Regions from separate parts of the Homo sapiens genome. Here all the other regions are reported to be linked to region 5. Evidence: microRNA targets listed by miRTarBase, many of them from high-throughput screens and not tested one by one. Region 5 holds a microRNA gene; each other region holds the end of a gene's coding sequence. Distances are between the middles of the regions.

Region 1 (5,074 bases), not on the chromosome of region 5:
TCATTACTGTATTTTTATCACTTTCCTTATTATAAACTCATGATATTTAGGGAATAGACACAGACGGAATGTTATAAAAATGTTATAAGCACATGCCATCATAGTTGTGTAGTGGCAACAGCTGATTTATAAAATTTAAAGATTTTAATTTCAAAAATATCTATTAAGGAGTTTTATATTTGGAGGACAATTTTTACTTTTTAATGGAGCAGAAGCCATTTTCATTTATAGTATTAAATCCCCCACAGAAACAAATAAGCAAGGCAGGGCATCTCCAGCACCCATCCTATCATCCTTATCCTAACTCAAAGTCATTTATGTTCTATTCCAAAACATAATTTATATAAAAACATCCCGAGGAATACTTACTTTTGAAAATCGTATTTTTCCAATAGGTTCTCTTCCTACCAATTGCTTCAAGTGTATATAGTATGGATATGAAAACAGTTAGCTCTTTGAAAAACATAAATCCCTTATGCAATGTCATATCTTCGCCCTTTGGACACAAGGTGCAATTTTGTAAAAACAATAAAATTAAATAAATACAATTTCAATAATTCAAAGTTAATAGAAAAACTGGCAGCTTTCAGGGTTCTCTTTCTAAAGAAAATTACATGTAATAGAAATTAGAGCTTCATCCTCTACAGTAATGTAAATGTACTGTATTTGAGATATGAGTAAAGTTGGTTCTAATAATAGTATGTGTTCATATTTATTAATAGACTCATTAACACTTTTAAGGCTACTTTGCAAGAGTCCCATTAATTTTATTTAATAAATGTCCCATAGGGACAAGAATTCAATACTTGAAACATTCACATTTGAGTTATTAATATTGCCATGTCACCTTAATATCAATTGAACTTATCAACTTATCTCGTAGTCCTCACTATGACTTATAGATGACAGACAAAATGAGTTTTGCTGACTTTAAAAAATAAAAGCAAGAAAAGCCTTACAATAAGATTCAAGTGAAACATTTATCATAATTATACATTTCTATTTCCACGAACAATGTATCACATGTGTCCTTCATATATGAAGATGACATTACTGACCTTTGTTATTAGGACATATTCTAAAGATTTTGTTCTAGAAGTAGCAATGGTTTTGTGCTGAATCTCCAAATTCTCTTTCCTCATTCCTCATCAACAGTACATGAAAAGAACAGAATTTCTGGGTTCTATAAGATTAACAGGCCCATTCTAAGATCAAATCCACAACCTTGGCTTCTAAACTGTTATGACAACTTTTCCAGACATATAAACGACCCATCTAAGCTACAGCTCCACTGATTTAAGAGTAAGGAGACTAAGGCTGTGGGACACATGCTCATTTGAACCAATTTTACCTTCCTTGTCATGAATTTCTCTCTTAACCCTGGCATCCAGCCCTCCTGCATGCAATTGTACAAAGAAGAAAACAGGAAAGAGTATGAGGATAGAAAAGTGCAAATCCATCACTATTAAGTAACAATAAAAAGTACACATGTGCTATGATTGACAGGGGAGTGGTGTCATCTGTGAAGGGCAGCACATTTTATATTCATCCAGAATATTCATCCAACCAAACCATTAAAATTAATCCAATTGATTTTGAGTGGGGCTATTTTGGTCATGCAGCAATTTACAAAATAGAAACCGCTGAGAGAGAAGCCAGCAAAATTAATTTATTTAGCCAGGAGGAAGAGGTCAGTTTAGTCAATGAATTATTCAGGGATCAAAAATCTACCCTTAGATAGACAGGTGCATTTCTCTCTGCACACACATGTGACTGAGGCATGGCTTTGTCCCTGAGAATTTTCATGCCTCAGGAATGATAGTCTGTCTTCTTAGAGGTGGAATGACAAAGTGAATGGAAGATGAAATTGTATCCCAGCGGATGAAATAGGACTTTGTTCTGCCTACAGACTGGTTGGTTGTTTGTTCTGACATGTTTAGCCAGAGATGAGAAGAATTCTACTGGGAAAATCCAGATTTAAACTACTTAAAGCAGCTCCCTAAACTACTATAAAATATTTTTTTTAAACTGCCAAGAAATCATTTTTTCATTTCAATGTGATATTTATATAGAAAATGATTTTTATCCAATGCTGAAGGTGTAGTGAACATAGAACAGTTGCAAGATTTGTTTTATTGAGCAACGTCTTTAAAGATACAAGAAACAGGCCATACACTACAATGCAATGTGACTGAAACAGTATGTTTAAGTTTCTTTTGCCACAAAAAGAAAAAAAAATAAATACAAGGAACACTGCCTTTTCATATATATTTGATTATGGCACATGCACATTTTTTATCACATCTTAACTTAAAATACTCAAATTTTCTTTTCAGCTTTTATCAGGGAACTGCAGTATGTATCTGCATTTTTAAAAAGTGCTTATTCCTGTGTAGTGAATACAAAGCACACAAAATGAAATTTTTTAAGCACAGAGGGTTACATTGAGAAGGCAGCCTTACTATTTAGGCACATTACAGTAATTAAGGTAACTGTACTGCAGAGATCACATTCTTCATTTTTTTTGTTTTTTCAGCAAATCAACAGGCATATGTTTCCATCCAGTAGCTGAAGAACCACTCCATCACAATGTCTTCTGTTTCACAGAATAGGAAACTAATGCAAAAGTTAAAAAAAAATTATTTTCTACATTGTATTATACAGCTACATATCATTTTAAAACTTTATTTAATACATTTACCTCTATATATCTTTATCTATATATTTACCATGCAAAGCACAAAGCAGACTTAACTATTATTTAACTTATAAGCCACTTTTTAAATTCCACAAAATGTTTACCTTAATTCTGGTGTTTCATTTTTAATACGTATTTATATTTTGCCTTTAAAACAGATATCATGAGAGTTGAAAGGGTGCACCATCAGAACTAATTATTTTAAAAACGAATTGCATTTGGGGACTGAATTAAGTACTTTATTCAAATTATTTTTGAATGACATTTGGTCACCCCTAGATTCACATTGAAGGCTGTTTATTATTAGAATATATGAGGAATTTATCTATAATAGTGTTTCACCTATTATATCCCTAAAATATATTTACAAAGACAGAAGCAGCAAAAAGGAAAGAGTATATATAACTTTGTTAGAGGAAGAAAAATCATTAAGCAAAGTGGGATAAATATAGCTGCAGTGTATGCTAGGAAAGACCCCTAATAAAATCTTCAGATTTATCTCCAATACAGGAAATGAGCTTCTGAAAAAGTATCTAAAATATAAAACTTACATACCTATTTTCCCACTAACATCCCCTATATTATTAATGAAGTATCCTTTGTTACAGGAAGGAGAAAAAAAAATTTATTTAACAAATATGACTATTTTATCCAGGTATAAAGTGCCCTAAATACCAATATTGCAAAAACATCCATTTATCATTTTTCACGTCTATGCCTTATGTGTGAAAACATTACTTAGAAGAGTCTCAAGAGATCTGTCATCATAAAAACTACCTTCTACTAAGTTTTTGACTTCTTTCTGAGTGAAAAGGAATGAAATTAATATTTACTATCTACTATGTGCTACAGACATTATTGCATTCAAACCAAAAAGATGAGTTTGAAACAGCCCCTCCCTCTGACACCATCAAAATTCTTTTAAAAGGAGGACATAACTGAATAGGAAAGAATTCTTAATCTGGGATCCATAAGTAGTATATTCATTCATTCATTCATTAGTTCATTCACTTATTCAACAAATTTTTACTGGGAAACTACCATAGGTCCAAGCACTATTCCAAGTACATGAAATACAGTAGTGAACAGATAGAAAACCCTACCCTCACAAAGGTTGTATTTTTAGTTCAGAGGAGAAAAATAATAAAGAAAACATCTGAAGTATTTTAAATAGTAAGTGCTTTGGATAACATAATGCACGCAAGGGGGAAAGGAGTGCTAGAGGCAGGAGAATTCTGATGTAAAGGGGTGATGAGGCAGGTCTGGCCCAGATGACATCTGAGTAGAGATTAACTGAGGGAATTGGCCTTGTGATCAAGGAAAAGAGCATTCCAAGTAGAGGGAACTCTACTTTTGTTTTTTACTCTTTATGTTGACAAAATATTACCTTTTATAATGGTGTTTCCTTTTTATAGTTGAAGCTAGGGTCAGAACCTTCAATCTGAAGCTTCAGAGCTTGTTTAAGGCTTAATTCTGTCTCTGAGGAAGGGTATCCCTCCAACACTTCCTGATGCCCTCTATCTTGCATTGTTCGTGGGACTGAAACCCTACCAAGAAAAACCTGGTTGCTCTGAAGATGATAATTTGGATTTGTCATTATTCCATTTCTCTTCTTCTGTTCCCCACTTTGTTGGTGAATAAGAAACTGCTGTTGAGATCGACCAATTTCCTGCTGAGCTGAAGGTATCATAATTTTGCATTGAGATTCTGCTGGCATTTGTTTAGGTGGTGCAGCAGTCCCGGATTTGGCTATAGGTCCTCTTCTATCAAACTGAGTCATTTCATATTCTAAAACCTTTGGCTGTGAAGAATTACTTTGTTTCGCTTTTTTCCCAGCTGATCCAGACTTGGCAGAATTTTCTGATTTCCCCCCTTTACTTGCTTTAGTTGACTTCAAACTGGGCTTTACTTGACTCCACTCAAATTCACTACTTGGTGAATTATGACTCTGTCCTAAGGACTGTGTTGTGGAAGATGGGGAAACAATTGACTGTCGACTTCTACTGCGTGGCAATGAATGCTGCTGAATTTGTTCTGTAAATGACAAGTTATGAAAGCTATCAATTGGCACTGTTTGAGCCGTTGCTGTAGATGAAGTAGTTCTCAAAGATGAATTTTTTGAGCTTTTCAGGGAATTATTTGACAGTGATGACTTCTGCCGGTCAACTGTAGAATCTGGAGATTCTGAAGGAGAACTAAAAGCATGAGTAGGCCCATTAGGTAAACCACGTAACGAAGGCTGCATATCCCCTCCACCAGTACTACCAGAGCTATTTGATTTAATTGTTAATGACTGCACTTTTGAAGACAATGACTGTAGAGGTTTTTGCTCCATTGTGTGAACAGGAGATGGGGAACAGCCATTCAAACTAGATG
Region 2 (5,074 bases), 82 Mb from region 5:
TCGAGACCAGCCTGATCAACATGGTGAAACCCTGTCTTCCAAAGTGGCTGCACCATTTTGCATTTCCACCAGCAATGGATGCGAGTTCCTGTTGCTCCATGTCCTCCCCAGCAACTGGTGGTGTTAGTGTTTTGGATTCTGCCCATTCTAGCAGGTGTGTAGTTGTACCTCCTTGTTTTAATTTGCAGTTCCCTAATGGCATGCGATGTGAAACATCTCTTCAGATGCTTATTTGCCATCTGTATATCTTTTGGTGAGGTGTTTGTTATGGTCTTTGGGTACCACTTTTACTTGGGTTTTAATTTTTGCTGAGTTTTAAGAGTTCAGAAAAGTTTTTTTTTAGATTTTAGCATTGTTATTAGAGATGGGGGTCTGGCTTGGTTGCCCAGGCTGGTCTCAAACTTATGGCCTCAAAGGATCCTCCCCCGTCTCAGCCCCCTGAGTTGTTGGGAGCCATGCCTGGCTTCAAGAGTTCTTTTTCTATTTTGGATGAAGTCCTGTGTCAGACATCTTTTGCAAATATTTTCTCCCAGTCTGTGGCTTGTCATTTCATTCTCTTGACAGTGTCATTTGCAGAGCATTAAGTTTTAAATTTTAATAAAGTCCAGCTTGTCAATTTATTGTTTCATGGATCATGGCTTTGTTATTATGCTATATCTAAAAAGCCATTACCAAGGGAATGTAAATTAGCCACCAATTAACCACTAGGGAAAACAGTTTGGAGGTTCCTCAAAAAACTAAAAAGAGAGCTACCATATTATCCAACAGTCCCACTGCTGGGTATATACCCAAAAGAAAGGAAGTCAGTATATCAAAGAGGTATCTGCACTCCCATGTTTGTTGCAGCAGTGTTCACAATAGCCAAGATTTGGAAGCAACCCAAGGGTCCATCAACAGACCAATGGATAAGAAAGTATATACACATTCACACAATGGAGCACTATTTGGCCATAAAAAGAATGAGATCCTCTCATTTGCAACAATATAGATGGAACTGGAGATCATTATGTTATAAAGTGAAATAAACCAAATACAGAAAGAGAAACTTCACATGTTCTCACTTCTTTGTGGAAAATTAAAACAATCAAATTCATGGAGATACAGAGTAGAAGGATCGTTACCAGAGGCTGGGAAGGGTAAGTGGAGGTTTGGGGAGGAGGCAAGGATGGTTAATGGGTACAAAAATACAGTTAGAAAGATGAAATATGCCCTTTGATTTGACAGTACAACAGGGTGACTATAGTCAATAAATTGTACATTAAAAATTACTAAAAGAGTATAATTGGATTGTTTGTAAAAAAGCATAGAAACCCTGTCTCTACTAAAAATACAGACATTGCATGTCTGTATCAAAACATCTCATGTGCCCCATAAATACCTATTATGTACCCACAGATATTAACAATTAAATGAGTGAAAAAAATTTATAAGCTATCATCGTACCTAAGGTAACCTACATTTTCTCCTATGATATATTCCAGGACATTTCTAGTTTGCATTTTACTTTTAGGTCTATGATCCCTTTGAATAATTTTTTTTTTTTTTTTGAGACAGAATCTCACCCTGTCACCCAGGCTGGAGTGCAGTGGCGTGATCTTGTCTCACCTCCGCCTCCCAGGTTCAAGCAATTCTCCTGCCTCAGCCTCCCGAGTAGCTGGGATCACAGGTGCTCGCCATCATGCCCAGCTAATTTTGTATTTTTAGTAGAGACAGGGTTTCACCATGTTGGCCAGGCTGGTCTCGAACTCCTGACCTCAAGTGATCCACCTGCCTTGGCTTCCCAAAGTGCTGGGATTACAGGCATGAGCCACCGCGCCCAGCTCCTTTTCATTAATTTCTGTTTAGGGTGTAGGGTCTGTTTGATTTCTTTTGCACATGCGGACATCTAGTTGTCCCAGCACCATTGTGGGACCATTTTCTGCATTGTGGTGCCTTTGAATCTTCTCAGAAGATGAGTTGACTATATTTATATGGGTCTATTTCTGGGTCCCCTAATCTGTTCTATTATTTGTCTCTCCTTTTACCAATAACACACTGGTTTGGTAACTGCAGCTTTGTAGTAAGTCTTCTAGTCAGGTAGCGTCAGTCCTCCAACTCTGCTCCTCTCCTTCAGTATTGAATTGATTATTCTGGGTCTTTTGCCTCTCCATAAAAACTTTAGGATCATCTGTTAATATCCACAAAATAACTTGCAGGGATTTTGATTGAAATTGCATTGAATCTATAGATCAAGCTGGAAGGAACAAACATGTTGAAAATACTGAGTCTTCTTATCCATAAACATGGAATTTTTCTCCATTTATTTGGTTCTTCTTTTGTTCATCAGGGTTTTGTAGTTTTTCTCATATATATAGAAAGAGTACACTTTTTTTAGACTTGTACCTAAGTATTTTATTGTTTGGGGGTGCTAAAGTAGAAGTACTTTGTTTTTAACTTCAAATCCACTCATCCATTGTTGGTATATAGGAAAGTGATTAACTTTTGTATATTTTGAAATCTTGAATAGTTGTTCATTATTCTAGGGGATTTTCTTGATCCCTTTTTACACTTTCTACCTGGAAAATGTCATTTGTGAACAAAGAGAGTTTGTTTCTTCTTTCAGTATCATTAAACTTTAACTTCCTTTTCTTGCCTTGTTCCATCTGTTAGAGCTTAAAGTGCTGAAAGGAGATGGTGAGAGCGGATGTATGGGCCTTGGTCGTGATTTTAGTGGGAAAGTTTCTACATTCTTACTACTGTATATCATGTTAGTTTTGAGGTCCAGTGGACAAGGAATGGTCAAGTGACACAAAAGGCCTCACCTGATATTGCAAGGACTTGCTGACAGTGAGAGGTCAGGGACAGGGGAGACCCCACCCACACTGTGAAGTCCTGAGAACAGCGAGGGGTCAGGGACAGAGGAGACCCCACTCACACTGTGAGGTCCTGAGGACAGGGTGCAGCCTCTTCCAGGCTTGATGGGGGTCTGCACGGTGGCTGCAGGCATGGTGAGCCCTTGCTGCCGGCTCCCAGCACTGACAGGAGGGGGGGCCATGGTGTCCGCATGCCTTGGGCTAGGCTTGAGGGCCAACACTGGCCTCCTTGGGGTGTCCAGACAGGCTGGGAGCACTCACTCACCTGTGGCCTTAGTGGAAGGACCCCAGAGGGGACAGGGCAAGGTCTCCTTCTGCAGGCTGCTAAGTATAAACCAAATAAGAAAAAGCAGAAAACAATTTCCCAGATCAAACAAAAAATAACATCAGAGTGCTGGGTGCAGTGGCTCACGCCTGTAATCTCAGCACTGTGGGAGGCTGAGGCGGGCGGATCACTTGAGGTCGAGAGGTTGAGACCAGGCTGACCAACATGGAGAAACCCCATCTCTACTAAAAATACAAAGTTAGCCAGGTGTGGTGGCGCATGCCTGTAATCCCAGCTACTCGGGAGGCTGAGGCAGGAGAATCGCTTGAACCTGGGAGGCGGAGGTTGTGGTGAGCTGAGATCATGCCATTGCACTCCAGCCTGGGCAACAAGAGTGAAACTCCCTCTCAAAAAAAAAAAAAAAAAAAAAAAATCAGAGCTCCCTGGGCTGTGGCTTTCTAGAGAGGCTGCTTCCCAGTTTTCCTGCCAGGCACCTGCACTGGCTCTGGCGACTGGCATTGCAGCCCCTAGTCCAGCTGGAGCCTCAGAGCAGGACCTCCTGTGGAACTGGGGTCTTAGCAGACATTCTCAGTGAGTGACATCAAGACCAGGCCATCCTGGATTAGGTTGGGCCCTGGACCTGTGGCAGGCGGCCGTGCAGGGTCCTCCCCAGAACCTTTGGAGGGAGCACGCCCAGGATATCTCAACGTGGGGCTTCTGGCTGCAAAGCTGCGAGGGCCCCTGTGTGTGAGGCTCACTGAGCAGCCCTGGGAAGGCAGCACCACTGGGCATTGGGTGCACCAGCGTGGAGGCCCCACAGGCTGGGCCGTGGCACCATCCTGGGACTCGCCTCCCATGTGCCCGCACCCTTCCTTGCAGCCCTGCACGGGGCATCTGAAAGCAGCATGGCAAAGGGGCACCACCCGCAATGTGACGCGCAGTCCCGCCAGAGGCCATGCTCACCTACCCCAGGGCCTCTGAGGGAGTGGCCACTGACCCAGACACAAGGCACCAGGTGGAAACACTGGCACCCATCTTCAAAAACCACTCTGAAGCCAGCATTTCCCTTTATTTCTGGATGGAAACGGGGCCCTAAAAGCAGAAATCAATATTTTTGTTTGAAAGATGCAGTCATGCTAATTTCACTTTTGGCTAAAACCGAGACGATAAAAGAACAGTTGGGTGTTTATAGGATGCCCTCAAAGTGAGCTGGCTAAGTGAGCTGGGCTCTAACTTCACTCACAAATTTATAGTACAGCTAAGAAGGCCAGTCTGTCCATGAAAGGGAGCCGAGACAAGACGAGGGCGGCCTCTTCCAGGCCTGTGCCAAGTGTCCTTGGGGTCCCGCCATGGTCCACACTTCTGCAGCATCCGCAGAACATGTGGCCGGGTCCTGCCCAGCAGCAGGGACAGCCAAGTGGGAGGCAGGCATGGTGCACACCTGGGGAGGCCCCTGGTGCAGAAGCAGCCCCACAGTAGCAGCCCCATCCAGAGGAAGACCACTCCGGAGGGCCACAGGCCTCTGCAGCCCTGGCACTGCCGCCCAGCCCTCCATCTCAGCGGGATGTGCAGGGTGAGACAGGAATGCAGGGACGTTCTGCCCCTAGGTCAGCCTCTTCATCCGCCTGTTGTGCTTGTCGATGGTCAAGGTTGCCCTGTCCACAGCTGCTGCAACGCCATCCAGGGCTTCGTCTTGTCTCTCCAGCTCACTCTCGGCCTCCAGGGCCAGCCCCTTCATCCTCCTCAGGATCTGGGGAGAAGCACAAGATCACAGCAGAGGCTGCCATCTCTGCAAACTCTAGCACAGACAACATCTCCCCCTCTCACACACCCAAGAGCCTTTGCGTTACCACCTGGGTGATGCCATCTGCGAGCCAGCAGGAGGGAGCCGGCAGCCCAGCACCAGGGTCAGGTCATGGCTCTGCCTCTGCCAGTACAGGCCTGATGAGATGAGGTG
Region 3 (5,074 bases), not on the chromosome of region 5:
TCTGTGCCAGACATCTTGATTCCAAGGCATCAGCAATGCCACAACAGGAGAGGATGCCACTTAGGGAAAAAGCCAGCTCTCTTCACTCCTGTGACCCAGAAATGCCAGCTTGCTTTCCATGACTCTCCACTGTGACAGGTAAAACGCAACTGAATGTCTTGCTCGTGAAGATAGGACTTAGTCACCTGCAATGAATGACCTATTTCAAGGTCAGGGTAGATGACTGCTCTGTTTACATGATAAGGAGCTGCTAATTCTGAAATTTTATTCCCAGCTCTCTTTTCATAAACATTGTACCCTCCTGCAAAGCTCTGGGTGACAAAGCCTGTATTCTTTTGCTGGGGCTGCCGTCACAAAGTACCACAAACTGGGCAGCGTAACCAGGAGAAATTTCCTGGTTCACAGTTCTGGAGCCCAGACGTCCCAGGAATAAGACATCTGCAGGGTTGGTTCCTTCTGAGGGCTGTGAGAAAGAATGTGTTTCATGTCTCTTGCCCACCTTCTGGTGGCTTGCTGGCAATCTTCAGCACTTTGGGACCCATAGAAGCAGCATCCTGATTATCTCTGCCTTCATCTTCATGTGGCGTTCTCCCTGTGTCTATGTCTGTGTCCAATTTCTTCATTTTATAAGGACACCAGTCATATCGCATCAGGGGCCCACCCTAATCCAGTATGACCTCATCTTAACTAACGATATCTGCAATGGGCCTATTTCTAAATAAGGTCACATTCTGAGGTACTGGGGGTTAGGACTTCTTCAACCTATGGATTTTTGTGGGGACACAATTCGACCCATAACAGAATGGGTGGGTGGAGGATGCTGAAGCCTCCCGGGGCACCGTCTGAGAATTTGGAACTTGCTTCTGGAGTCCATGGCCCTTCCCATTAACTTGCTCCCTCTCTAGGAAGCACGTCTCTCACACTTAGCTCCATAAAAGGTGCTTACACTTCTAGCTACTTCACCACGGCCATGCTCAATGTGACTCTGAAGTTCATCATCCACTTTGTAGATTATCTTCGGCCCTTACTTTTTCTTCCCCATTCAGACTGGCCCTTTTGGCCATCAAAGAGCCAATCTGTACCTCCACCAATAAGAGAGCAATAAAACGGCCCCTTAACTAATTCTGATGCAAAGTGTGTAGTAACCAGCTTTGAAATTAGTTTCTAGATGAGATTTATTTCAGGAACATCTATGAATTTTAATGACTGCTCTCTCATTGTTATCCAGCAGCAGAGTTAGTGAAGTGTGGTCTGAGTAGCTCAGCAAATACTGAATGAAGTGCCTGGGATGCAGCCAGCAGAGCCCTGTTTGTGCCCAAGCATGGAACCAGCAAACTGGCTGCTCCCCGGGGTGCAGGGTGTGCATCACTGGCTCCGTTGTGATCCAAGGGTTGAGGGCTTGCCCATGTGTATTACATCATTGAATCTTCACCAATATACACTCGGGTACATATTTATGTCCCCTTTTGACAAATGAGGAAGCTGAGGCACAGATTGTAAGAGGCAACTTGTAAGAGGCAAAATGGAGATTCAGATCCTGGTTTGCCTTCTAAGCACTAGCTCTGAGATAGCTTGCCTAGCAGATAAATCTCACCTCCCCTGAACCCTGTTCCCAAAGGTCCACCTTAAAATACTACAGGGGGATTCAAGATGATTCTGTTCCTACAGGAGGCTTTTTTGGGGGGTTTGCTGAGTTGGGAGTGGGGACTAAGTGCACGTAGAGGGAAGGTTGTTCTATTTCAACACAATTTAGCAGAATTTATAAGCAATACACTGCCCATTCTGTGTTAATCAAACTGAATAAATATAGTGTTATCTACTTTTTAAAAAATGCACCTGAGAAATTTTTTTTTTCTTGCTTGTTTTTTCCAAATACCAATTAGGCTAGTTAGCTCAAGAAAGAAAGGCCCTGTTTCTAACACAGTATGTTACAGCAAGCACCGTATCCATGTAAATATCTATTTTTTTTCTATCATTCTTAGAACTTCAACTTCTCCTGATCCTTAAAAATGTTTGGTTTAGATTGATACTGGTGACCACCGATGGGTTTTAACAAGGAAACGACTGGAAGCATTTCCACTTACTAAAGTTTATTAAGTACAAAGAAATGAATCTGCGGAAGGAGACATCAATAAATATAAAATACACGTGAAACATTGGAGGAGTCACAGACTGCAGTGTCAGTGAGAATATGTGACAATGGCGGGGACTGTGTGACTCAGATGTCTCTAAGTCTGAGTTTACAGTCAAGGGGTTAAACCTTTACAGCGCCCAAGGGACTCAGTGCACCAGCATGAGCTCGAAGGGTTGTGAATTCAGTGATAGGTCTCAAGGGGAGATGGGATGCCACATTCCTGAGATTTCTCCCTAATTGCCATTTTTGGTTTCTGCTCCTTCCTCCCCTCTGTCCTTTTTTTTTTTTGAGTTAGGGTCTCGCTCTGTTGCCCAGGCTAGAGTGCAGTGGTGCCATCTCAGCTCACTGCAACCTCCACCTCCAGGGTTCAAGCAATTCTTGTGCCTGAACCTCCCAAGTTGCTGGGATTACAGGTGTGAGCCACCATGCCTGGCTAATTTTTTGTATTTGAGTAGACAGGGTTTCACCATGTTGGCCAGGCTGGTCTTGAACTCCTAACCTCAAGTAATCCACCCACCTCAGCCTCCCATGCTGGGATTACCTGCATGAGCCACTGCTCCTGGCCCGCTCTGTCCTTAAATAGTGTTATTTTAATTTCCATCCCAGCCATAGGAGACACGAATGTCTAAACACCTCATTAGGGCAGGCAGTCTACTCTGAAGGTGGAATTGCCTTTGTCTAGGGTCTTCTTAATCAGGATCATTAAAACTTCTATAATTATTTTACACAACTGTGAGGGCAGTGGAGTGGACACTGTTATAATAATAAATTCTGGCTTTTTGGAAATCTTCCAGAACCAATAAAACAAATTAGTTATGCCCAGAGCTGATGACCTGCAAAAACTTCTACTTATTTAGCTGTTACAGTTTGGGCTTGATTCATTCCCCTGGAGAAGGGAATTTGACCCTGGCTCACTTGCTTCCATCTGGAATGAGAAAGCACAGCACTGCTGCAGGACACCACCTGAGTCGTTACTCCAGACAACAGTGAGGCAGATGCAGTCATGTTTGCCCACACCCTCCTGACCGGCTGCCTTTCTGGATGGCTTGGTCTGTTCATGATATACTTCAGGGGTGAATGTGTGCGTGGGTTGTTGCAAAGCAAATTTCTTTTTCGCTGGTTTCCCTCCCCTCCCTGCCTGATTTCCTTTAAAGGGCAGCTATTTTGAGCACAGCCCAGGGATCAGTCTGTTTCCTTCTATTTTTTCTCCTTCCTCTGTCACAGTCTTCCCCGACCAAAGATGGGGAACATCAGGGGTCAGGCAGCAAGCAAAAACACATTTCCACTCCCTACAGGATCAAGAAGAGGGAGTGAAGAGCAGGACCAGCCCGGCCTGACCTTTTCCATATTCAGAGTGGCTGAGCTTGCACACATCTCCCCACAGACAGGTGCCCACCACAAGGGAATGAATGTGGAGTTGTCAGGCAAGGTTCTCCTTTAGCTCAGAAGGGAGCTAGGTTTTGCCTGACGGGTGGCTCCAAGGATCCTAAGATGGGGGCAGTGAGGCACTAGGTATTTGTGGCAGGTATTTCACACGATGTTTCGTTCTACACTTTTTCATGTCATATTTTCCATGGAAGTCCACACTCGAAGCAAGGGCAGAAGGGGAGACCTCTGAGATACAACTGGTAGTTTAGCATAATGATGAGTTGTGTATGTTTTTAATCTGTAGGGAAGAAATACCAAAATCTCATAAAGCTGGCTACTGGGATGGGACTGGGAACTTGGAGGGAACAGGATGAAAGTGACAGAGACTTGGGCACGAGGGACACTGTAAACAGTAGGAGCACTGGCTACTTGGAGGATTATTCAGTTACAAAAGGGGCCCTGTGGTTGGCATCGGAGGGCCAAGCCCACTCTTGCCTTTACTTTGTGATGTATTACATTAGGCAGCAAAAAAAAAAAAAAAAAAAAAAAAAAAAATTCCCTGTACTGCAAAATGGAAGCGAGACATGGCACCTCGTTCCCTGGAGGCTGCGCGGCACTGTCTGGGTGTGGGGGACACGCTACTTCCTCTGAGCTGCATCATTGATAAGGCATTATTTGGTTTGATTTTGCAGTTAGTGTGATGAGAATATGAAATTATGCCAATAAGAAGCCGTTGTGGATATTTATAACTTTGGGGCTACCTGCAAACTAAGGACTCTCTACAAACGGTTCAGAATCTAGGAAGGGCCAGCCTGCAAGCAGATTCACAGTCATGGAGTGGGCACTAGGTGGAGGGACAGGGCTCTATCTGTGCTGACAAATGCCAAGATGCAATGCAAAAAATGGAAAAATGAGGGGTGTTTTAAAAAATATTACCGAAATAAAAGTCAATTAAAATACTGCTTTAAAGCCCGTGCAAATCACATATTTACAATAAATAAATTCTCAATTCCAAGCCTGTATGCCAACTGAATTACAGCTTGAGCATGGGGTGGGTGGGGTCTGACATGTTGTTCTGCAACCTGGAACCCCAGGACCTTCGCTTCATCTGTCTTCTCACCGAAGAGTCTTTAGAGATAACTGTGGAAACATAACAGAACATTACCAGGTGGAGTTAGAAGACTCTTGCACATGAAAGCCTTCCTCCTCCACCCCCCCAAACAGGCTGGGCCCCGAAGCTTCTCATTCATGCAAGGCTGTCAAGTTTGGGGAGATGCCTATGCAAAGAGCTGACTTTTACCCAAGGGGCTGTGGGTGGAAACCAGATGAAATGGGGTATGTAGTTGATGGTATGTGAGGACCTAATACTGTCTTATAAACATTTATAGAACCAATCATCAGCAATTCACTTGACAGGAAGCTCAGAGAAATAAAAAAAACGTGCTGGAGACCCCAAGTTAAGGCAGTGGAAAAGCAAGAAACCGATTTAGGCATTCAGACTTCCAGCCCAGGGCTCCCACCCCATGCACTGACCACTCTAGCCATAAAAAAGAGCAGTCCCTGGGGTATTGT
Region 4 (5,074 bases), not on the chromosome of region 5:
AACTTTTACTTTAATTGTTTTCTTTTTAAAAAAATATGGAACGCTTCACGAACTTGTGTGTCATCCTTGCCCAGGGGCCATGCTAATCTTCTCTATATTGTTCCAATTTTAGTGTATGTGCTGCCAAAGCAAGCGCTAAAAATCTAACTTTCACAAAGGATTTTTGCCAAGGAAAGAATATTGTCTAAGTAGTCGTTTCATCCTACAGTGTATATATGAATACATAAAGATAGGTGGTCTAATTACTAAGATGCCATGCTGAGTAATTACAAATCATTTTTCTTTCTGAGGCTGGGACATGTTTTCAACAACAAGGCCGAGGTATGTGGCCTGAAAGCAGTCTTAGAAGTGAGAATTGTAAAGCTCCCAGCCACGATTTTGACAGTAGCATCCAAACAAAAAAAAAAAGTATTTTTCAGTTCCCACATCCTACTCTAAATACGGATGGGGAAAACGGTAATCTGGCCTTTAAGATTACCATATGGACACTTAGGACCCAGAATCCAAGATGGCCCAGTGGTTTGCATGTTCCTTGGCAGTTGGCTTCATTGGTTACATAACCTTAAACATGGCTTTCTATTTATTTATTATTGCAGGAGAAAGATAACAACACTTATGAAAACAGAAGAGTACTTTCCAACTATGAAAGGCCATAGAAACGTTTTAATTTTCAATGAAGTCACTGAAAATCCAACTCCAGGAGCTATGGCAGTGTTAATGAACATATATCATCAGGTCTTAAAAAAAAATAAAGGTAAACTGAAAAGACAACTGGCTACAAAGAAGGATGTCAGAATGTAAGGAAACTATAACTAATAGTCATTACCAAAATACTAAAACCCAACAAAATGCAACTGAAAAATACCTTCCAAATTTGCCAAGAAAAAAAATTCTATTTTAAACTTGTATCCTGAGTCTGTTTCATTCAACATGAGATGTGTGATGACTGCCATCCTGAAGATCTGAAGCCAAACCATGTGCCTCAGTCTTGAGTGGAAGAATCACCTTTATGGTTTGTGGAAATCATGGCACAATTAAAATAAGTTGGGAGGGACAACGTGACAAAATTTGAGTTAGAGACATTCATTTTGAAAAGCACCTTAGTAAAGTTATTTCCTCTGATGTTGTAATGGGGCAGTGGGGTAACGCACATTTGCCTGCCAGGGTATGCAAAGTAACTTACATCATGCTATCAGCAAAATGAGAATAATATAGTGGCTAGAGTAAGACCATAAAAGCCAAAATACAGAAAATCCAAAGCTGAAGGTTAAACAGAGGTAACTTCAGAACAAATAAGCCACAACGGACTCTAGATGTCAGTGTTGTGCCAAATAACAGCACCAGGGAAGATGTGGGCAACACATCTACTTTACAAGCACGTTTGTAATACTGATTTTTTTTCTTTTCTTTTTTTTTTTTTTTTGAGACAGAGTCTCGTTCTGTTGCCCAGGGTGGAGTGCAGTGGTGCAATCTCGGCTCACTACAACCTCCACCTCCCGGGTTCATGCCATTCTTCTGCCTCAGTTTCCCAAGTAGCTGGGATTACAGGTACGCACCACCACGCCCGGCTAATTTTTTTTTTTTTTTTTTTTTGTATTTTTAGTAGAGACGGGGTTTCACCATGTTGGCCAGGCTGGTCTCAAACTCAAGACCTCAGATGATCTGCCTGAAATGGCCTCCCAAAGTGCTGGGATTACAGGCGTGAGCCACCGCGCACAGTCTATAATACTGATTTTTAACCAATTTAGGAGGGAAATGTCAGATAGGAGGCATGGTACAAGGATATTTATGGAATTCATTACCACTTCACTAAGAAAACATGATATAAATTGTCCTTTGAAAGCTACTTTGGTATAAAAAAATCTAAAGTGCCCATAAGTATGCATTCATTATTAGACACAAATTACAACCTTACAACCTACTATGTTTATTTCATTAAAGTGTCTCTTTTAGGCCGGGTGTGGTGGCTCACGCCTGTAATCCCAACACTTTGGGAGGCTGAGGCAGGTGAATCATGAGATCAGGAGTTCGAGACCAGCCTGAACAACATGATGAAACCCGTCTCTACTAAAAATACAAAAAAATTTAGCGGGGTTTGGTGGCACACACCTGTAATCCCAGCTATTTGGGAGGCTGAGGCAGGAGATCACTTGAACCCAGGATGCGGAGGTTGCAGTGAGCTGAGATCACGCCACTGCACCCCAGCCTAGGTGACAGAGCAAGACTGTCTCAAAAATAAATAAATAAATAAATAAATAAATAAAATAAAGTGTTTCTTTTAAACTGGTATTGCCTAAGGTGTATTCTTTATAAAACTTAGAATTGTTAAATATTTTAAGATTCCTTTGAAAGTGTTTTTGCATTGATGGTTTAAATCAGTGATATCAAACTTTCCTGATCCTATGTGCCCAGAAAAATGGGCAGGGGAAAGGAGGCAGCATGGAACCTCATTTTTTTGTGTGTATCTGTGTGTACACGTGAGTGCACATGTGTATATGTGTGGGGCCACATGTGTTTTGTATACGGTATATGCATGAAAATGTACCTTTGTACCTTATACACAAAAACAAATTAAACAATGGCATAAGCAGCAATATAAATAAAAAATGCTAATACTTTCCTGCCATATTCCAAAATAAACTGTCTTGTGTACTCTGCAGTGTGTACTTCCCCACTCTGAGACCACTAGCTCAGGTAAAGTAATGAGCTTCTAAGCCAGACTGCAAAAAAGGGCAAGCACTAATACCATCGAAATGAACAGAAGTGTTGAATTCGATCATTTGCTTTTCATTTCTGGGAGTCATTACATTTTGGTACTGAATTCCAGGACTGAAAATACACTGTTCATTGTCTAACCAGGAGACAAAATCCCTCAGATAAACTAGTATTTGACTCACAATATGCCTTTCCCATGTAAGCAAGGACCGTGTTTCAAAGATTGATTTTGAAGCTGAAATACGGAATATACTTTCGCAAAGAGTTCCATTCCTCTAGGTCTTATATAAGAATATCTGGTGTATACACAGTATTCATTCATTTATTCATCTATCTCACCAAAAGTATATATTTTCAAACTTCAAAATAAGTTTTATTTGGGAAGAGTTTCTTATTTTGTTAAAGCTACAAGCAAGTTTCTTTCCCAATTACACTTCTAGAGATCTTAGCAGTTTCAGAGATTTCAGTGTTCAAAAGTATATTTCAAAATTAACAACAAAACCAAACCCACACCAAAAGGAAATAGCTTTGAGATTAGTTTGGGATGTACAGTCATTGATTTCAGGCGCCAACACTATTTACTGAGTGCTACACTATACAATCAAAGGCCTCTTTTGCAAACTATCCTCGGGTCATACTGAACTTGCTCCACCCCCACACAAACCTTACTCACACCTTCATGCTTTTGCACATGCTGTTCCCCTCAGCCTGGTAAAATGCTTCAGACTACAAACACAGCTCACCTCAACATGAAACCTTCCCTAACTCACCCACAGGCTAACAGATCTATTCGTCTCTAATTCTTCAGTACTTAGTTTGACATATTTCTTACCACAATTTCCTGCCATTATCTGTTTCTATCTATATTGTGTACTATTCTGTGTTTTAAGAGCAAAAGCGTGATTCTCATTTATCTTTATATTTCCACTTGGTACACAGTAGGCCCTCAAATGCCTTCTATAAATGCAATTGAACAATGTTTCTATAGAAAAATGTTCCTTCAGCATTTAAATTGAGATATGTAGCATACTTCAGTCCCTCACCATGAAGCTTCACCCCTTTCCATAAAGACCATTCAACAAACCCCAACAGTACTAATTGTCCTGCTATCTGAGCATCCAGAAAAGAATTAAACTGCAACTTTTTCTTTCTTCTTGAGATGGAGTTTTGCTCTTGACGCTCAGGCTGGAGTACAATGGCGTGATCTCGGCTCACTGCAACCTCTGCCTCCAGGGTTCAAGTGATTCTCCTGCCTCAGCCTCCTGAGTAGCTGGGATTATAGGCATCTGCCACCATGCCTGGCTAATTTTTGTATTTTTAGTAGAGATGGGGTTTCACTCTGTTGGCCAGGCTGGTCTCAAACTCCTGACCTCAGGTGATCTGCCCACCTTGGCCTCCCAAAATGCTAGGATTACAGGCATAAGCCACCGCACCCAGCCTAAGCTGTAACTTTCTGTTTAGATTTGGGTTTCCTATGACAATTAAAAAAGAATTAATACTGAAACAACTTGTTTTACTTCGAGCTGCAAAAACAAATTACCATAGACTGAGTGGCTTATTGAGAGGTGACAATGTGCTAGCAGCCCTCGCTCGCTCTCAGCGCCTCCTCGGCCTCGGTGTCCGCTCTGACCGCACTCAAGGAGCACTTCAGCCCGCCGCTGTGCTGTGGGGACCCCTCTCTGTGGCTGGCCGAGGCCGGACTGGCTCTCTGCTCGCGGGGAAGTGTGGAGGGAGAGGCACGGGCAGGAGCCGGGCTGCGCGCAGCGCACGCGGGCCAGCACAGGTTCCGGGTGTGTACGGGCTCAGCAGGCCCAGCACTCGGTGCCACTGGCTGGTGCCTGCTGGGCTTAATCAGGGGACAAGCTCCCTCTGGGCTGCTGGAGTGCCCAGGCTAGGTGCCACAAAGTCCCGCAGCCAGTGCCATTGAGAGGTGAAGCTGGCTGGGCTTCTGAGTCGGGTGGGGACCTGGAGAACTTTTCTGTCTAGCTAAAGGTTTGTAAATGCACCAATCAGCACTCTGTGTCTACTTAAAGGTTTGTAAACGCACCAATCAGTGCTCTGTGTCTAGCTAATGGTTTATAAATACACCAATCAGCGCTCTGTGTCTAGCTAGCCGGGTAGCAGACTTGGAGAACTTGTGTCTAGCTAAAGGATTCTAAACGCACCAATCAGCACTCTGTGTCTAGCTAAAGGTTTGTAAACACACAAATCAGCGCTCTGTCAAAACGGACGAATCAGTGCTCTGTAAAATGGACCAATCAGCTCTCTGTAAAATGGACCAATCAGCAGGATGTTGGTGGGGCCAGATAAGGGAATAAAAGCAGGCCAACAGAGCCAGCAGCAGCAACCCGCTCGGGTC
Region 5 (5,074 bases):
GGGTTTTTAATTCATATGGCTTACTTCCCCTCACATGAACTGCAATTCTCACCTTATCTATCCCTTTTACCAGTCTGTGTGTGTGTGTGTGTATGTGCATGTGTGTGGAGGGGGAGGGCAACATTAAGGACTTAGTATATACAAGGCATCTTGCTGAGCACTTTGCATGAGTTATCTCATTGAATCCTCACAATAACCCTATGGACTCGGCTCCTACCTGTAATTCCAACACTGGAAGGCTGAGATGGGAAGATCATTTGAGGCTAGGAGTTTGAGACCAGCCTGGGCAACATAGTAGACCCTCTCTCTATAAAAAATTAAAAAAATTAGCCAGGCATGTTATAATAGCTCATGACTGTAGTCTTAGCTGCTCAGGAGGCTGAGGCAGGAGGATGGCTTGAACCCAGGAGTTTGAGGCTGCAGTGAGCTATGATTGCATTACTGCACCCCAGCCTGGGCAACAGATTGAGACCCTGTCTCAAAAAAAGAAATAATCCTATGATTGGCTAGTGACACTCACCCAGAAAAAAAAAAAGAAAAAAAAAAACCCTATGAGATAGGTAGTATCATTACACATGAGGAAACTGAGGCCGAGAGAGATTGAGCCTTGCTCAAGGTTATATTGTTAAGTGGCAGAGCCAGTGTACTGAACTGTCATAATATATCACCTATAACAACTACCTGACTTCCCACTGAGCATTGCAATAAGGTTCTTTTCAGGGCCTGGATGTTCTAATCTTTTGATCTTGCTAGTCTTAACCTCTTTTTGGAATCTACATTATGGTTCCTGTTCCCAGTGCTCCCCCACTTTTTGTTTGTTTGTTTGTTTTTGAGACAGGGTCTCGTTCTGTTGCCCAGACTGGAGTATAGTAGCACAATCATAGCTCACTGCAGCCTCGACCTCCTGGCCTCAAGTGATCCTCCCACCTTGGCCTCCCAAAGTGCTAGGATTGCAGGCATGAGCTACCATGCCTGGCCCCTAGTGCCTTTATTTATTTATTTTTACACAAGTGTTTAGAAAGCCAAAGACCCAGTGCCTTTTGGAGATGGTTTATGGACTTCTGTGTCTCTGCTCCTTTTGTTCCTTATACTACACGTAAGTGCTCAGATTTTTTTTTTTTTTTTTTTTGAGACGGTGTTTCACTCTGTCACCCAGGCTGGAGTGGTATGGCACAGTCTCGTGATCTCAGCTCATGCAACCTCTGCCTCCTGGGTTCAAGCAATTCTCCTGCCTCAGCCTCCTGAGTAGCTGGGATTACAGGCATGTGCCGCCACATCCGGCTAATTTTGTATTTTTGGTAGAGATGGGGTTTCACCATGTTGGCCAGGCTGGTCTCGAACTCCTGACCTCAGGTGATCCACCCACCTCAGTCTCTGAAAGTGTGATTATAGGCGTGAGCCACCACGCCGGCTTTTTTTTTTTTTTTTTTTTTGAGGCAGAGCCTTGCTCTGTTTCCCAGGGTGGAGAACAGTGGTGTGGTCTAGGCTCACTGCAACCTCTGCCTCCTGGGTTCAAGCGATTCTCGTGCCTCAGCCTCCTAAGTAGCTGGGATTATAGGCATGTGCCACCACACCTGGCTAATTTTTGTATTTTTAGTAGAGATGAGGTTTCACCATGTTGGCCAGGCTGGTCTTGAACTCCCAGCCTCAAGTGATTCACCTGCCTGTACCTCCCAAAGTGCTGGGATTAAAGGCGTGAGCCACTGCACCCAGCCTCAGATTGTATTTATTTTAAAACCTATTACTTACTTTGCAAAGCTCTTTTACATACCTTGTGTTATTTGATTCCAACAACTCAGAGCGGTCCAGTAGGATGGATAATGTTCTTATTTTACAGATGAGGAAACTGAGATACAGGAAGGTGAGTTACAGAACTCTGGCTACTGTTCTGCTCATCTCCCAGCCCCGTGAATTTTCATCTCTCTCTTCCCCCAGTTTATTTATGGAGATTCTTAGTTCCTGTTCAGATTGTGATGAGATCCAATTCATGGAAGATGGATCCTGGTGCCCAATGAAACCCAAGAAGGAGGCATCTGAGGTTTGCCCCCCGCCAGGGTATGGGCTGGATGGTGAGTGACCCCCTGTTCCCCAGCTAAGCTAAATCTTGGATGGCCTCTTCTCTGAGACGTAGTCTTCTTAATACCCACAGGCCTCCAGTACAGCCCAGTCCAGGGGGGAGATCCATCAGAGAATAAGAAGAAGGTCGAAGTTATTGACTTGACAATAGAAAGCTCATCAGATGAGGAGGATCTGCCCCCTACCAAGAAGCACTGTTCTGTCACCTCAGCTGCCATCCCGGCCCTACCTGGAAGCAAAGGGTATGAGAAAATAGGCTGAGTCTACAGCAAAACGGACAGGGGAAGAAGTCAGGATTGCTTTCTGATCATTGGACAAAGCCTGGGGCAAGAGAAATGTGGAGGGGACAGAGAGGGAACCTGGGGACCTGAGCTGGGTGAGGGCATCTGTGGTTTGCTGGCTGCCTCAGCTCCTCTCTACCCACAGAGTCCTGACATCTGGCCACCAGCCATCCTCGGTGCTAAGGAGCCCTGCTATGGGCACGTTGGGTGGGGATTTCCTGTCCAGTCTCCCACTACATGAGTACCCACCTGCCTTCCCACTGGGAGCCGACATCCAAGGTATGACATGGGTCATAAGATGGACCCTGCACTGCCACACCCTCCCCAGAGCTACATCAGAACCCCTGTTCCTTCTCAAAGCCTCCTGCTTCTCCTGCAAGGGGCCACAGTCCACAGTGCTTTGTCTTTTGGTGGTAAAGGGGTCAGATAGGAGGTTAATTTTGATTTTTCTTTTCCTGCCAGGTTTAGATTTATTTTCATTTCTTCAGACAGAGAGTCAGGTAAGTGGTTCTTTCTTCAGAAGGTCTCAGATCTCTGAAGCTTCCTTTCTAGACACTGATGGGGCCCCTCCCTCTCTTATGATCTCTGGGGATGTAAATCTGCTTTCCCGTGAGGGCAGTGGGGTGTAGGTATCTTATTATCTCCTCAGCCCCACTGGTAGTTCCTGAGATTCCTACTTAGGCCTCCTTCCTAGATCCCCTGTTACTTTTCTGCCCTGGCCTACTCACCCCTACCCCCGTGTGCACTTAGAGCACCATGCCTGCTCTAACCGGACATTCCACACATTTCAGACGCCCACAAAGCCAAGAACCTAACAAGTTGGAGGAGCTCTCTCAAGGCAGGGAAAGGGGAAGGGTGTAGGGAAGTAGGGGAAAGAGGGAGAGGCTCTCCTGCTTCTCAAGAGAATACCTTCGGATCCACAGGGGTTGATTGCTCTCATACGGCATTTCTGAGATGAGTGACTGGGAGGTGGGGAAGTCGGGATTGAGATCTTAAACTATGCCCTTGATTCTTCCTAGCACTATGGCCCCTCTGTCATCACCTCACTAGATGAACAGGATGCCCTTGGCCACTTCTTCCAGTACCGAGGGACCCCTTCTCACTTTCTGGGCCCACTGGCCCCCACGCTGGGGAGCTCCCACTGCAGCGCCACTCCGGCGCCCCCTCCTGGCCGTGTCAGCAGCATTGTGGCCCCTGGGGGGGCCTTGAGGGAGGGGCATGGAGGACCCCTGCCCTCAGGTCCCTCTTTGACTGGCTGTCGGTCAGACATCATTTCCCTGGACTGAGTTCCCTGGATTATGGAAACTTCGCTGTCCCCCAACACTGAGCAAGTATGCTGTGGAGTCCCAACCCCAGCTACTCTGATCCCTCTGGGGGCTCTGGCCAAGGGCCAGACAGACCTTCACAGATGCCTACTTTTGGCCTCATCTCTGCCTGACAAGGCCAGCACCCAAAGGGTTAATATTTAACCTCTTTTTAAGGACACTGGGGTCTGTTTCTGGAAATGTTCTTTAGATGGTGGCACATTCCTTTGGGTATGTTAACCTAGGCAGTGGGAGGCAAATGGGATGGTATGTGAGCTAGGAGAAGGGCTGAACCCTCAGCCTTGACTATGTCTAGAGCCTCTTGGGGAAGGGGCACCTCTCTTGAACCCCAAATGCTCTCTCTTCTTATTACCCAAACCCATGGCTCTATTTCTTCTTCACATCCATTGTCTCTTCATGTCTATTCCATTCCCTTCGGCCAAACAGACAGGTGGAAAAACTGAGACAGGCAGTTTCAGAGATGGACAGAGAACTTTATTTTGGATTGTGGATGTGGACTTTTTTGTACATAAATAAGAAAAACCAAAATACTCCAAAGATGACTTCCCCTGCCTCCTACTCCAGTATGACAGAGGAGGATGTAAGGCCTTAGCCATGATCTGCAGGGGTCTGGGAGTCAGGCCCGGCCTATTGCTTGGGTCTCTCTCTATTTATATATCTAAGTTCACAGTGTTTCTTATTCCCCCCTAAGCTTCTAGAGGCTCATGGCCCTGTAGTTAGGCCTGGCTCATTCTGCACCTTTCCAGGGAGGTGGAAGGACCCTGTGCCCTCCTTCCCAATCTTCTTTTTCAGGCTCGCCAAGGCCTAGGACCTATGTTGTAATTTTACTTTTTATTTCTAAAGTTGTAGTGAAGCTCTCACCCATAATAAAGGTTGTGAATGTTCTGTGAGTGTCATGGAGATGGGCTAGGGAGGGGATTTTACACTTCACTTTCCAGACCCCTGGTTTGGGGGAAGAGGGTCCATGTTCCATTCTTCCTTTGCTGGCCCTGGGTCCAGGTAAGCTGCACTTTTACACGGTGGGGGTGTTCTGTGGAGGAATTCCAAGAGAGGTTGTCCTTTCCTGCTTTCCCCCGTGCCTGTAAAAACTAGACCATTCCAGCCCAGTACTGTGGAGCTCTCCAGTCCTTTTTCACTTTTACCTGCCCAGATGTTGCAGCCAGAGCTTGAGGGCAAACTTGGTTCCAGTGCTGACTCTCTCTTTGTCCTCTGCCATGGTTGGGATCATCCGCAGGAGGGTGGACATGTGCAGGACCAGAGGTCGGGCTCTTCCATCCTCCTCTAGTTCCACTGCACTGCATGGTGACAACTCCTGTTGGGGCTGTGCCTTGTAGCTTACAAAGAACTTACATATATGTTAGGTCCCCGAATCCTCCCAACTACCACAGGAGG
Region 6 (5,074 bases), not on the chromosome of region 5:
TTAAAAGTTGAAAAACTGGCTGGGCATGGTGGCTCATGCCTGTAATCCCAGCACTTTGAGAGGCCGAGGTGGGCGGATCACCTGAGGCCAGTCGTTCAAGACCAGCCTGGCCAACATGGTGAAACCCCGTCTCTACTAAAAATACAAAAATTAGCCAGGTGTGGTGGCACACGCCTGTAATCCCAGCTACTCGGGAGGCTGAGGCAGGAGAATCACTTGAACCCAGGAGGCGGAGGTTGCAGTGAGCCGAGGTTGCGGCCACTGCACTCCAGCCAGGGCAACAGAGTGAGCCTCCATCTCAAAAAAAAAAAAAAAGAAAAAAAAAAAAGTTGAAAAACTAAATTTGCTAAAATTAAATGTGCCTAATTTTCCTAATTAAAAAATGTTTATCTTTACTTAAAAATGGAGGGGGGTATCTATTACTAGAAAGAGTAACTATATAAAATTATTTGAATTATTGATGCACATTCAGAGTCCTGGTTTTTAATACCAAAAAGCCATTAAGGTTGGGCGCAGTGGCTCACGCCTGTAATCCCAGCACTTTGGGAGGCCGAGGCGGGCGGATCACCTGAGGTTGGGAGTTCAAGACCAGCCTGACCAACATGGCGAAACCCTGTCTCTACTAAAAATACAAAAATTAGCCGGGTGTGGTGGCACATGCCTATAATCCCAGCTACTAGGGAGGCTGAGGCAGGAGAACTGCCTGAACCCGGGAGCCGGAGGTTTGCAGTGAGCTGAGACTGCGCCATTGCATTCCAGCCCAGGCAACAGTGTGAGACTCTGTCTCAAAAAAAAAAAAAAAAAAAAAGCCGTCAAAGAGGCAAATAAAATACTGCAAGTCAGACATAATCATAAGATTTCTGCTGAAACCTTTTAAATGTCCTGAAATCCTATTTTTAACAATATTTTGATTAAAGCAAATCATCTTGATTACAATAGTGCATCTTAAATCACTGGGAGTACAAGTGTAATTGCTGCTTTATCTCTGAAACAATGTTTCTCTAGTTTTTTTTTCAAAAATTACCAATTAAGGCTGTGGCTCATGCCTGTAATCCCAACACTTTGGGAGGTCAAGGCGTGCGGATCATTTGAGATCAGGAGCTTGAGACCAGCCTGGCCAACACGGTGAAACCCCATCTCTGCTAAAAATACAAAAAAATTAGCTGGGCATGGTGGCGGTTGCCTGTAATCCCAGCTACTCTGGAGGCTGAGGTGGGAGAATCGCTTGAACTTGGGAGGCGGAGGTTGCCGTGAGCTGAGATCAAGCCACTGCACTCCAGCCTGGGTGACAGAGCAAGATTCTGTCTCCAAGAAAAAAAAACAAACAAAAAAAGAAATGCCCGATTTACCAAGAATATTTCTCATCCCCCTAAAAACTTGCCCCCCCTCCCTTTTTTGAAACAGAGTCTCTGTCACCCAGGCTGAAGTGCAGTGGCATGATCATGGCTTACTGCAGCCTGGATCTCCTGGGCTCAAGCGATCCTCCTGCCTCAGCCTTCCAAGTAGCTAGGACCACAGGTGTGGGCTACCACACCTGGCTCATTTGTATTTTTGTAGAGGCAGGGGTCTCCCTATGTTGCCCAGGCTGGTCTTGAACTCCTGAGCTCAAGCAATCTGCCTGCCTCAGCCTCCCAAAGTGCTGGGATTACAGGTGTGAACCACCATGCCCAGCCCTTGGGTCTTTTTAATTTTGGTAGTATAGAAATAACTGGAACCTCAGAGGAGACACCTGTAATGCCAACTAGAAAAACACTGCTGCAAAGGACATCTAGTGGAAGGGTAAAAAGTAAAAAGCAGTAGAAACCTCAGCTTCCCTGAGAGCATATTAGACCAGTGCTTCCCAAACTGTAAATAAAGTCCATTCTCATCCCCTGGGCGTTCTTAGTAACATCAACTGGTCTGGGGCAGGCATTTCCAACATACTGCCAGGGCATGGCCAAGCTACACTGGTTCCTGAGCCACACTCTTTGAGTAGTGAGGCATAATCTCCATAGTGTGATGTTCATATTTTAGCATTTTATTAAGTTTTACAGGTTTTCATGCTTGGTATATCTTGTTGGCTAACCCCTAGGCATGTAATAAATACTTAGAAATTTTCCACCAAACATGGTGATAAATTATTTTGCTCTTTAAAGGAATAACACTTCAGTTACCTATATAATTTACTAAAGCAGAACATTTTACTCCTTGATGAATCCATAAAAATACAGCACAACTGTATTCTTACAGTATGTACAAAATCTTATTTTATCCTTTTATTTTCACAGGCAATGCATAATTAGGTTGTTTTTAAATGAGATATTATGTAAAATTGATAGCAATAACTGTCACACACCTCTATTGCCATTGTAGGGTTTTTCTCTTTCTCTGATACTTTTTTGTGTGTGTTTATTCAACATTTATCAATAAGAATTTTAGTGCATTCACTAAGAGCCAAGCACCGACACATCCTGATATGCTTCCATCTAGGACTTTTAGCTGCTTAAAAACATTTAACATGCTTCTTTTCCTCCAGCAAACTCTTTTAAAAAAAAAATGAAACTCTTTCCTTCAATGAGATTATTTCAGAAGTTGCCAGTCATCTTGGAACCCAAACTCAGTAATAAGCAACTGTGGCACCACAAGTGGAAACCTTTTGATGATGGGCCCAGTGGTTTCATGGAATACACGGGTTTACTGCTATAACCCAAGAGACTCCAGTTGAGACAGTCTGGCTCAGACACATGCATCCACAACTATGAACAGGAGTAATGCCTGGACTCATACCCAGTTCTCTTGTTGACTATATCTTTGCCAAAGGACTACTGACTAGTTTTAATGGGGCCAAGAACACAAATATGTATATTTTTCTTATAAAGAAACATTTTAATTCTATTCCCCTTTATGTAATAAAGGCTTCTTGAAAAACATGAAAGGTTTGGGGAGCAAATGCTTAGGAAGTTTTCTGACATTAAACCACCTTGTTCGTTCGTTCATTCATTCATTCATTCATTCATTCATTTTTGAGACGGAGTCTCTCACTCTGTCACCCAGGCTGGAGTGCAGTGGCGTGATCTCAGCTCACTGCAACCTCCATCTCCCAGGTTCAAGCAATTCTCCTGCCTCAGCCTCCTCACCTTGTTCTTTAAAAATAATCATATTCTATGAATATGTGTCTGCTGGTATAGCAGAAAGAGAAGGATTAATCAATAAAGTCCTAGAAGGTGAACTCGGAGGAACACAATTTTATGAAGACTCACAGTTTAAGACAAAGCTAAAACATTTATATGTGGTGATGATTAAAACAAGAACAACAGACTTTAAGGGGAATGGGCTTCTGAAGGTTATTGTAATACAAAAAGTATGGAAGGTCCCACTTTGTATAAAAACTGTGATGTAAAATTTCTGGTATAGTTTAAAAAGAAAAGAAAGAAAAGGCCCCAGAGAAAAACAAATATTTTCGCACAGCTTTTTTTTTTTTTTTTTTTTGAGACTGAATCTCACTCTATCACCCAGGCTGGAGTGCAGTGGCGCGATCTCAGCTCGCTGCAACCTCTGCCTCCTGGGTTCAAAAGCCTCCCTAGTAGCTGGGATTACAGGTGCCTGCCACCATGCCCGGCTAATTTTTGTATTTTTAGTAGAGACAGGGTTTCACTATGTTGGCAAGGCTGGTCTCGAACTCCTGACCTCCGGTGATCTGCCCACCTCGGCCTCCCAAAGTGCTGGGATTACAGGCCTGAGCCACCACGCATGGCCTGCACAGTATTTCTTAATGTAAAATTGTGTGATGCTTATATCATTAAAATCAACTTATTTATTTTATCTTTTGGCTTTCAGGTGGAATTTTAGAAAATACCTGGCAAGTGAATAGTTCTGAAAGTGCTTCCTCTTAAGTTCTTTGGTATAATTTGGTCATTTTGATAGTAATCAACCCATTAAGTAGGTACTTTAACACCCTCATATCAATTAAAATGGAATGTGGAGTACAGATATTTAGAAAACCATGACTGAGGAATAAATTATATTTTTGACCTCATGGAAAACAGAACTCTAAAATTTTACTTATGTTTCTGTGGCAAAGATAGCCATACTGCCTATGAAGACATCTCTAACTTTATATTAAAGAAATGTTCTATAAAACATCTCTTTCTGATTATTAGAAGTAACTGTTCTATATACTTTTTTAAAGTAGAAGAGGCAAGTTTCAACTTGAAAAAAGAATAATTTTGAATTTCATAAAATTATACTCTTTCATGCCTTCTGATTCAGTAATTGTCAACATCTAGAATTTAATGTCAGTTTGCAGACTGTTAAGGATTATTCTTCTATTTCAGGAACAGCTAATTTTCCTCTTGAAGCATTTTCTCTATTTCCTTATCCCAGTTTTCATCTCGTTTTTCAGATTCTGTCACCACTTCATATTCTTGAAGTTCCTGCTGCAGTTCTTTTTCCCAATCTGCAGAATCCTCTAAAAGAAACAAAGGAGAAGAAAAAGATTCTCTCTGAATTCATAATGCTGGTGTTCACAATTCGGTCCATCTCAATTACCTACGTAAAGTCCTAGCTGCTGTAATTTTTAGTATCTCAGGCTTCACTACTATGTGTGCTCAGAAAAACTCAGTAAATTTTAACAGTGACCAAGGATAAACACAATTAGAAAGATAAATCTGTTAATGTAGAAGCAAAGGTATCAGATGTCATCAATATATTTTGGGTGTTATTTTGCTTTCCCTATGCCTCTGCATTTCCTTTTATTTAAATGGGTAAATGATAATTAATACTTGGTTGCAAGTTAATTTTTACCACTACCAATGATGATGATGGTAGCAAAAGCAGCTAATGTTTATTGAGCACTTACTGGGCTGGGCACTGGCCCAACTGCTTTCTATGTATCACGCTTTTCACCCTTGGAACAGTCCATGGACAAGGTATTACTATTTGCCACATCTTATAGATAGGGAAATGGAGACTTAGGAGAGGTTAAGCAACTTGCCCAAGATCACACCGTTTGACAGCGACAGATATAAGGATGGAACCACATCTGCAGGCTCCACAGTCTATGCTTAACCACTATACAAAGAGCTGTCTCCTTAAG

What was found. The annotated mature microRNA hsa-miR-6736-3p reads UCAGCUCCUCUCUACCCACAG and lies in region 5 at 2,482-2,502, shown strand. An mRNA with a match to its seed (bases 2 to 7 or 8) in the 3' UTR can be bound and repressed. Matches are read on the target gene's strand: a 7mer-m8 pairs with bases 2 to 8, a 7mer-A1 pairs with bases 2 to 7 and ends in A, and an 8mer does both.
Region 1: the mRNA of ANKRD50 is a reported target of hsa-miR-6736-3p. Seed matches in the 3' UTR shown: 7mer-m8 at 1,993-1,999 and 7mer-m8 at 1,284-1,290.
Region 2: the mRNA of SNAP47 is a reported target of hsa-miR-6736-3p. The part of its 3' UTR that is shown has no 7-base or 8-base seed match.
Region 3: the mRNA of WIPF3 is a reported target of hsa-miR-6736-3p. Seed matches in the 3' UTR shown: 7mer-A1 at 2,472-2,478.
Region 4: the mRNA of IGSF6 is a reported target of hsa-miR-6736-3p. Seed matches in the 3' UTR shown: 7mer-A1 at 2,178-2,184.
Region 6: miRTarBase lists SYAP1 as a target of hsa-miR-6736-3p. Seed matches in the 3' UTR shown: 7mer-A1 at 3,518-3,524 and 7mer-A1 at 3,056-3,062.

Annotation. Positions count from the first base shown.
Region 1 is chr4:124,664,899-124,669,972 of GRCh38, forward strand. It overlaps ANKRD50 (ankyrin repeat domain containing 50), which reads right to left. Exons shown (of 5, transcript NM_020337.3): 4 at 4,086-5,074; 5 at 1-2,616. The coding sequence ends at 4,089. Among named protein-coding and RNA genes, the nearest start is that of ANKRD50, 45 kb to the right of the region's middle.
Region 2 is chr1:227,780,320-227,785,393 of GRCh38, reverse strand. It overlaps SNAP47 (synaptosome associated protein 47), which reads right to left. Exons shown (of 5, transcript NM_053052.4): 5 at 4,168-4,867. The coding sequence ends at 4,721. Among named protein-coding and RNA genes, the nearest start is that of PRSS38, 33 kb to the left of the region's middle.
Region 3 is chr7:29,914,061-29,919,134 of GRCh38, reverse strand. It overlaps WIPF3 (WAS/WASL interacting protein family member 3), which reads right to left. Exons shown (of 9, transcript NM_001080529.3): 9 at 2,074-4,642. The coding sequence ends at 4,619. Among named protein-coding and RNA genes, the nearest start is that of FKBP14-AS1, 72 kb to the left of the region's middle.
Region 4 is chr16:21,637,116-21,642,189 of GRCh38, reverse strand. IGSF6 (immunoglobulin superfamily member 6) reads left to right here. Exons shown (of 6, transcript NM_005849.4): 6 at 597-2,640. The coding sequence ends at 656. The region is part of intron 4 of METTL9 (methyltransferase 9, His-X-His N1(pi)-histidine); the gene reads right to left. It also overlaps the pseudogene RNU6-1005P. Among named protein-coding and RNA genes, the nearest start is that of IGSF6, 13 kb to the left of the region's middle.
Region 5 is chr1:145,848,015-145,853,088 of GRCh38, reverse strand. MIR6736 (microRNA 6736) reads left to right here and starts at 2,444; the gene lies at 2,444-2,502. It overlaps NUDT17 (nudix hydrolase 17), which reads right to left. Exons shown (of 8, transcript NM_001012758.3): 7 at 4,825-4,977; 8 at 4,135-4,712. The coding sequence ends at 4,610. It overlaps PIAS3 (protein inhibitor of activated STAT 3), which reads left to right. Exons shown (of 14, transcript NM_006099.3): 10 at 1,936-2,069; 11 at 2,150-2,318; 12 at 2,503-2,636; 13 at 2,820-2,857; 14 at 3,377-4,567. The coding sequence ends at 3,643. RefSeq lists an enhancer at 2,209-3,408.
Region 6 is chrX:16,759,605-16,764,678 of GRCh38, reverse strand. It overlaps SYAP1 (synapse associated protein 1), which reads right to left. Exons shown (of 9, transcript NM_032796.4): 9 at 1-4,447. The coding sequence ends at 4,320. Among named protein-coding and RNA genes, the nearest start is that of TXLNG, 24 kb to the left of the region's middle.